Homo sapiens: one gene and its partner. The protein of the gene in region 2 interacts with the protein of the main gene of each other region in a biochemical or structural test. Each region holds a gene or a part of one and is shown on either strand. Other genes may lie near its edges.

What was found.
Region 1: the proteins of SUPT4H1 (region 2) and MFHAS1 form a complex in vitro, tested with the Homo sapiens proteins (one large-scale study listed by BioGRID and IntAct).

The regions. Positions count from the first base shown.
Region 1 is NC_000008.11:8,782,854-8,785,630, forward strand, and holds the end of MFHAS1 (malignant fibrous histiocytoma-amplified sequence 1), read right to left. Parts: 3' UTR 501-2,777; downstream 1-500. UniProt on the Homo sapiens protein: Probable GTP-binding protein. Functions in innate immunity and more specifically the inflammatory response as a regulator of the Toll-like receptor TLR2 and TLR4 signaling pathways.
Region 2 is NC_000017.11:58,349,074-58,353,898, forward strand, and holds the start of SUPT4H1 (transcription elongation factor SPT4), read right to left. Parts: upstream 3,129-4,825; 5' UTR 3,063-3,128; coding exon 2,994-3,062; exon of another isoform or gene 2,926-2,993; intron 2,842-2,925; exon of another isoform or gene 2,662-2,841; intron 2,436-2,661; coding exon 2,329-2,435; intron 1-2,328. UniProt on the Homo sapiens protein: Component of the DRB sensitivity-inducing factor complex (DSIF complex), which regulates mRNA processing and transcription elongation by RNA polymerase II.

The DNA of each region.
Region 1 (2,777 bases), on a different chromosome or scaffold from region 2:
CACGTTAACACCCTGGCTTTGGTCCTTCCTTATCTTCTCTTTGCCTTTATTTAAACAATATGGAGTACTAAATCCTCTGATGGGTACCTGAGGGGCCTGCTCTTCCAGTTTGCAAATAGGGCACCCTGAGGCAGTATGTAGCAGGACTTCTGCTAAGAGCCTTTGAAAGAAAGATCAGGGGAACTTCCAAAGCTACCATAAATTCAACAGCTGTGACTTAGGAATATAGTGGATCATTGAAAAAAAAAAAAAGATTCTGATTTAAGAGAGCTGATCTTCAAGTTATATCCTCAGCCTGAAAACAGAGGCAGTTTTAAAACAGGGATTCTTTAGTTTTCTCTTCGGAGACCAAACAGATGAGAGCTACCACCACCCACCTCCCACAGCTCCAACAGTACCACTAAGGACTAAAACTATAAAAGTCATTCCTTAACTGATAGAATTAAAAGTAAAAACAAATGAACAAAATCTGAAATAATTAAGTTCTGGGAATACAACTGTTTAACCATTTCTTTGTATTTTTATTGATTTTTCTTTTTTAATTTCTGCCCAGTTACAACAACGAAATGGGAAACCACAATTAAAATTCACAAACCATGGCATGAAAAACAACACGCACCCCATCAGGAATTACACCAAACCCCTTTTCCTTTTTATTCATTCAAAAGAGAGTCCAATACACAAGTGTCAAATATGAGCACTGTCATTTTTTTTTTCTTAGAAGGGGGAAAAACATTTATTTTGGCAGTGCTTTGACAATTCCAGGAAGTGGTTTTGATACCACAAGTTGCAGGAATAGAAACCCTAACAAACTTGGAGGGCATTTGTTTGAGAGGCAAGGGACGCCTTGCTTAGAAAACATTCCTCTTGTGCTTAGTGAATCACCTATCGCCTCGGTGGGCTGCTGTGTCTTTCCAGGTGCTGAAAGAGAAAACGGAATTTCTTGCATAGACAGCTGAAGAGTCCTGTAGAGCAGAGTGATTTTTGTATCTCCAACCCTCCTCCCAACTTGAAACAAATTCTCAAGCTTCTCTGGAGCATCTTTTGGTCACATGACCCTCGATCATGGTAACCCTTTTGCTAAGACACATGTGACACCAAGGTTTCCTCTGACACTGCTTCTCTAGGGTTCAGATGACAGCATAAAACATCACTGGTCAAAAATATTAGATATTAAGAATGTGGGCGTTTATGTTCGTAACAGCAAATACTTTGTAGGGTGTGTCACCCAAAGGAGCATTTTTGTCATTTAATATGGTCCCCGGGGAGTTAGCCCAAAATCATACAAATAAGCCTTTTTCTAAAGACAGGTCAAAGTTGGTTAATTTAACAGTTGAGGAACCGTCTCATGCCAATTAAAAAATTCTTACTTCCCAACTATTCAATGGTCCAAAAAGCAATTAAATGTGACCATTCAGTTTTACACACATGCACACACACACACACGGAGACGCGCACACACACACGAGAACTGTGACAAAAGGATTCACCAGATTAATCTTGTGACTGTGTTCTAAAAGAAAATGAAATCTCAAACTTGAGGTGTCCTATTCAAGTATTAAAAAAATGCAAACATCGTCTGATCCCATTCGATTTTTATCATCATAAGAAATCATTCTCTGAACTGCAGGTTCTGGAGTCAGTGAAATTAATGCCTGGGGCACAAAATATTCTACAAAAATCGGTTTGTGATTTCTAGCAGGGCAGTCGCTTGCTCCTTATTTCTTTTAAAAAACATGTTGAGACTTTGTATACTGTAGCCTTCCAAGAGTCAATACTTTACAAAAGAAGTAAAAGAGTAGCGAGTACCAGCAACTCACTCTTCTTGTCTGAGGCTGGCGAGAAGCAGTCAGTTTTATACATTTTCGATCAACCCACGGAGGAGGCAAATGTAAACAGAGTTTTTTACACTCTCCGAAAAACATGTTACTACTGTAGCATATGCTGTTTGGCCCAATTAAAAGTAGAATGGAGAGCAATTTGTTTGGTTGGCTTTTTAAGTTTTACCTTGTGAAGATTTTAAAACAAGGGTATTACTAGTTCTTGGCAGGAGACCGTCCAATCAGAGGCTCTGTATTTATAAATAACCCGTGTGGGATTATGCTCTCCAGTGAATGTAACTGGAGCCTAAATTCACAACCTTAAGATCTGACAGCCAGATGTGGAAGGTCTACAAAGAGCTCTGCTAATAAGTAATATGTTTGCAAAGTGCTCTGCTAAGTAAGGTACTTATTAAGCAGAGCACTTTGTAAGATTCAGAACTGACTCCTGATTATCTTAAGCCATTAAAAGACTCAAGTTTTGCATGGACTTTTTGTCCTCTTTGGCCCCTGAGTGTGCCCCATCTCTGCCCAGCACTAATAACACGTTGGAAGAGCAAAGGATTTCCCACCAGCGTGCCAGATGATTTATATAGGCAGGGACCTTCATTGAAAAGAAGGGAAGGGACACTGTCTTAAATGCACATTTAAGGTTCTTTCTGATTATTGGCAATCTCTATGAACCAACACTTAATCCATGGGCTAACAGAGAGATTTTTTTTTTAATGTGAAGAGGATTAAAGAATAAAGAAAAAACAAAAAAGTCTTATACTAAAATAAGAAATCAGCCCCATCTTGGCACAGTTCTCATGCAGAATATTGCACCCAGTGTGAACTAACGCTAGAAGCTTCAAACTGTATAAATTTAAATGTATTTGCATATTATAAAAATAAAGATAAACATATACATATTTTACACTAGTTATGGAACAGCAATGAACGTCAGTCGATCCCTCT
Region 2 (4,825 bases):
GGGAGAAATTAGAACCTTTGGGCACTGTTGGTGGGAATGGAAAATGGTGCAGTTGCTAAACAGTATGACAGTTCCTCAAAAAATTAAACACTGAACTATCATATGATCTAGCAATTTCACTTGTGGATATACAGATGATCCCTGACTTACCTTAGTTCAACTTATGATTTTTCAAATTTATGATTTTGCAAAAGTGACATGCATTCAATAGAAATCGTTTTCAAATTTTAAATTTTGTTCTTTTCCAGGCTAGCAATTCAGTACAATATTCTGTCATGATGCTGCGCAGCAGCCATGAGCCACAGCTTCTGGTCAGCCACAGTAACATAAGCGTTCTGAGCACATTTGAAGTAGGCTAACTTATTATATTCAGTAGGTTGGGTGTGTTAAATGCACTTTTGGCTTATATTTTCAACTTATGATGGGCTTATTAGGTTGTAACTCCTCGGAAGTTGAGGTGCATCTGTACTGAAAATAATGAAAAGCAGGGACTTGAACACATATTTGTATACCAATGTTCACAGCAGTATTATTCACAAATAGCCAAAAGGGAGAAACAACCCAAGATATCATTGATGAATGAATGGGCAGCAGAACATGCTATACACATACAAGGGAATATTATTCAGCTCAAAAGAGGAGGGAAATTCTGTTGCATACTACAATATGAATGAACCTTGAAGACATTATGTTGGTGAAAGAAGCTAAAAAATGCTACTGAATGAGCCCATAGGTACCTAAGGGTGCCTAAGGTGGCCAAATTCATAGAGACAAAGCATGGTGGTTGTCAGGGACAGGAGGGAGGAGAGAACGAGGAGCTAGTGTTTAATGGGTACAGATGAAAAAAGTTCTGGAGATGGATGGTGGTGACGGTTGCACAACAGTGAGTATGCACTAATGCCACTGAATTGTGTATTTAGAAATGGCGACCGGGCACAGTGGCTCATGCCTGTAATCCCAGCACTTTGTGAGGCTGAGACGGGAGGATCACCTGAGGTCAGGAGTTCGAGACCAGCCTGGCCAGCATGGCAAAACCCTGTCTCTACTAAAAAAAGTACAAAAATTAGCTGGGCGTGGTGGTGGGCGCCTGTAATCCCAGCTACTCAGGAGGCTGAGGTAGGAGGCGGAGGTTGCAGTGAGCTGAGATCGTGCCATTGCAGCCGGGCGCTGTGGCTCACTCCTGTAATCCCAGCACTTTGGGAGGCCGAGGCGGGTGGATCACGAGGTCAGCAGTTCAAGACCAGTCTGACCAACATGGTGAAACCCCGTCTCTACTAAAAATACAAAAATTAGCTGGGTATGGTGGCAGGTGCCTGTAATCCCAGCTACTCAGGAGGCTGAGGCAGAGAACTGCTTGAACCTGGGAGGCGGAGGTTGCAGTGAGCCGAGATTGCGCCACTGCACTCCAGCCTGGGCGACAGAGCGAGACTCCATCTCAAATAAATAAATAAATAAATAAATAAGTAAAATGGCTAAAATGGGCCGGGCATGGTGACTCATACTTGTAATCCCAGCACTATGAGAGGCCGAGGTGGGCAGATCACCTGAGGTCAGGAGTTTGAGACCAGCCTGGCCAACATGGTGAAACCCCGTCTCTACTAAAGATATAAAAATTAGCTGGGAGTGGTGGTGGGTGCCTGTAATCCCAGCTACTCAAGAGGCTGAGGCAGGAGAATTGCTTGAACCCAGGAGGCAGAGGTTGCAGTGAGCCGAGACTGCACCATTGCACTCCAGCATGAGTGGCAAGGGCGAAAAGTCTGTCCAAAAAAAAAAAAAAAAAAAAAGCAACAGCTTTTGGGCAATGATCTACCATTACTACACCTCCCTTCCCTTCATTTTCAAAAAAAATTTTCATGCATTTAACAAACATTATTAAGATTACATTCTTTCTTCTCATGTTAAGTCTTTGAAATCTGGGGTATATTTTATACTTAAAAGCATGTCTTAATTTGGACTAGACACATTTCAAGTGCTCAGTAGCTACACGTGGATAGTGGTCACTGTATTAGATGCATAGCACTAGTATGTCCCAAAATAACTGTTGAGGCTGGACACAGTGGCTTACACCTATAATCCCAGCACTCTGGGAGGTTGAAGTCAGAGGATCATTCCACGCTGCAGTGAGCTATGATCATGCCACTGCACTCCAGCCTGAGCCACAGAGCAAAACCCTGATTCAAAAAAAAAAAAAAAAAAAAAAACCCACACAAAATAACCCCCAAAAACGAATGGCTGGGCCCAACTAGGATTAACACTTGCCCTGCATTTACTTCTCTGGGTGCAGGTTGGGTAATGCAGAAGTGAATGATGGAAACTGAAGCGGCTTACCCATCAAAGGAAGAGCTAGTGCAGTCATATACCATCTCTCGGTTACCCTTCATTTGTAGATATGCATCACAATTGTCACAACCATCATATTCAAACTGGTCTATAGTCTGGGAGTGAAAGAAAAATAAAGGAAAAGGAGAGATAAGCATGAACAAGACCAAGAGAAAAAGTAGCTTTCTCAATACTTCGACCTGCTCAATTTCTTGTTTCCCTATGTTGACTGTGTATCCTAAGGTTCCCCACCTACTACTCTCAAAGCTTCATTCCTAAGTCCCACCCTCCCACTCCTTCCTCTCTCGTTCCCAATTCCGTTTTATCTATTCCTTTCTCTAGTCTACTCAGGGTCAGGCATCCTTTCCGACTACTCACTCAGCAGCGGATCCCCACCCGCCTCTGACTCCCAGTGTCTTTCGGCTCCAACGTAAGTTCACCGAACGTCTAAGAGCTGAGGATTCAAAGGCATGTAAGACCGCCCCTGCCCTCAGCTGCAAGACCTGTCCGCGATCCTACGAGGTAAACGATGGCCTCCTTCGGCTTCTCACTCCCCCTGCCACCTCTGAGTTCTGAGACTTAACTTTTCTCTTTACTGTCCCACAGCCCCATTCCGCCCTCTTTCCCCGACCTTGGTCCCCCATGGGCCCTACAACCAGGTCCCCGACTGACACCTTGACCAGCGAACACAGCAAACAGGCCCGCAGATGCCGCAGGTCCTTCGGCACCGTCTCCAGGGCCATCTTCGCCGATGGGAAGAACAACAGGGAGATAGACGACCACAGCCTGTGCACCCGCAGGAAGTAAATAGCTCGTTACCCAGAATGCCCACCACTTCCGGCGCTTAGACTTCCTCTTCCGGTGTGGGCGGACGCCAGCTCCGCCCCTACCCCCGCCAGAGGAGATGGTTTCTCCCGCCAGCAGGCGGGGAGGCTGGGCGGCCGGCCGCCACCTGGGCCGGAGCGCGTCGCAGCCACCTGAGCCCGCCGAGGGCGCGGCGGAGGCTGTGTGGGGTAGTCAGCGGGCCCCCGGGGCGGGGGGGCGGCTGCGCTTGCGCGGGAGTGTGTCGGGCTGAGCCGCAGCGCCGAGACGCGGGCTGTTTGATCTGGGCTGGTGGCCCTGGGCGTCGGTCCTGTTCCCCGATGGTAACCCGAAGTTTGTTTTTTTTTGTTTTGTCTCCCCGTTTTAGAAGCATTGGGGGCAGTGAATCCACTGTCTCCCTCTGGATTGTCTCTGCAGAGACCGAGAAGAAATCCAGGGACAGCCCCACCCCTCCTTCCTAACTGCGAGAGCGCTATAGGGTTTCCACTTGCTTCCCACAGGAATGCTGGCCTGGGAGCTACGGCGGAAAAAAATGCGTATTTATCTTTTAAAACTCCGTCTGTTTGCTCGTTCCGGCTGATAATTTATACTTTGCGCAGTTCTTAGCGCTTAGACACGGTTCCTTTACTAAAGACCATTTGTAGGAGATTAGGTGTCCTTTTTTTCCCTTTCATTTCACCGTCTAGGAAGCGAAATGCCTTGTTCTATAGGCACTAAACCACCACCCCTACCAAACCTTTCTCGGGGAAGCAGAAGGGGAACTTGTGCCTTGTGAGGAAGCGACAAAGGCCCCTTCTGGCCCTGGAGACTTCACGCCAATGGAGCACCAGCTCTCTGTCCTCGCAATAGCCCGAGTGCAGGCAGAACGCAGTCATTTGTGTTTATCTGAGAGGAGCTTTGGGATATAAATAGTTTCAGGCCCCGCTGCGCTGTCATTCCAGCCCAGCCTCCTGATTGAGCTGCTTCCGGGCGGGCTTTCTTCTTGTTGGCGGTCCCATGCTGTGTTCAGATGGGCTCTGTGACAGGTTTGGATGTTTTCTATCACTGAATAAAACTTTCCACTTTGGAACATATTTTCTACACTCTATTATCTCATGTAAGTCCTGCAACAACTATTAAGTAGGCCCATTTTATGGACTGAAAAAGCGAGGCACAGAGTATTTGCCCAAGGTCTGAGTCACTGAAGTATGATAATGTGTGAAGTGAACAGTATAATAATAATGACTGAAGCACAGTAAGAATCCAGTCATGCTTTCTCCTTCCCTGATCTCACTAAGCCACACTTTTAGGGGCTTACAAACCAGTTCTTATTGCCAAGCCCTCTACTCTACCCTATCCTTTCATGAATCGGAGCCTAGCCTCTGATAACATAAATAATTTACTTCTCTTGATGTAGAAAGAGATGACGTTGTTACCCTGAGTGACAGTCACGACAGAACAAAACCACAAGACCAGACCACATTTGTGGATAAATATATTAGCAAATAAATATATTTCTTAACATAGTGCCTGATTCAAGCGTCTGTCTGGTTCAGATATAAATACCCATGTGGGTACCTAGGTGCTAGTCTCCCCACTAACTGAGGGAAAAAGGTTCCCAGGTGGGGTCCTCTGCCCACTTTGCCACCACATTCACATTCCAAATGGGATAATGCCTGAGGGGCCAAGAGTGGTCAGGCTGCCC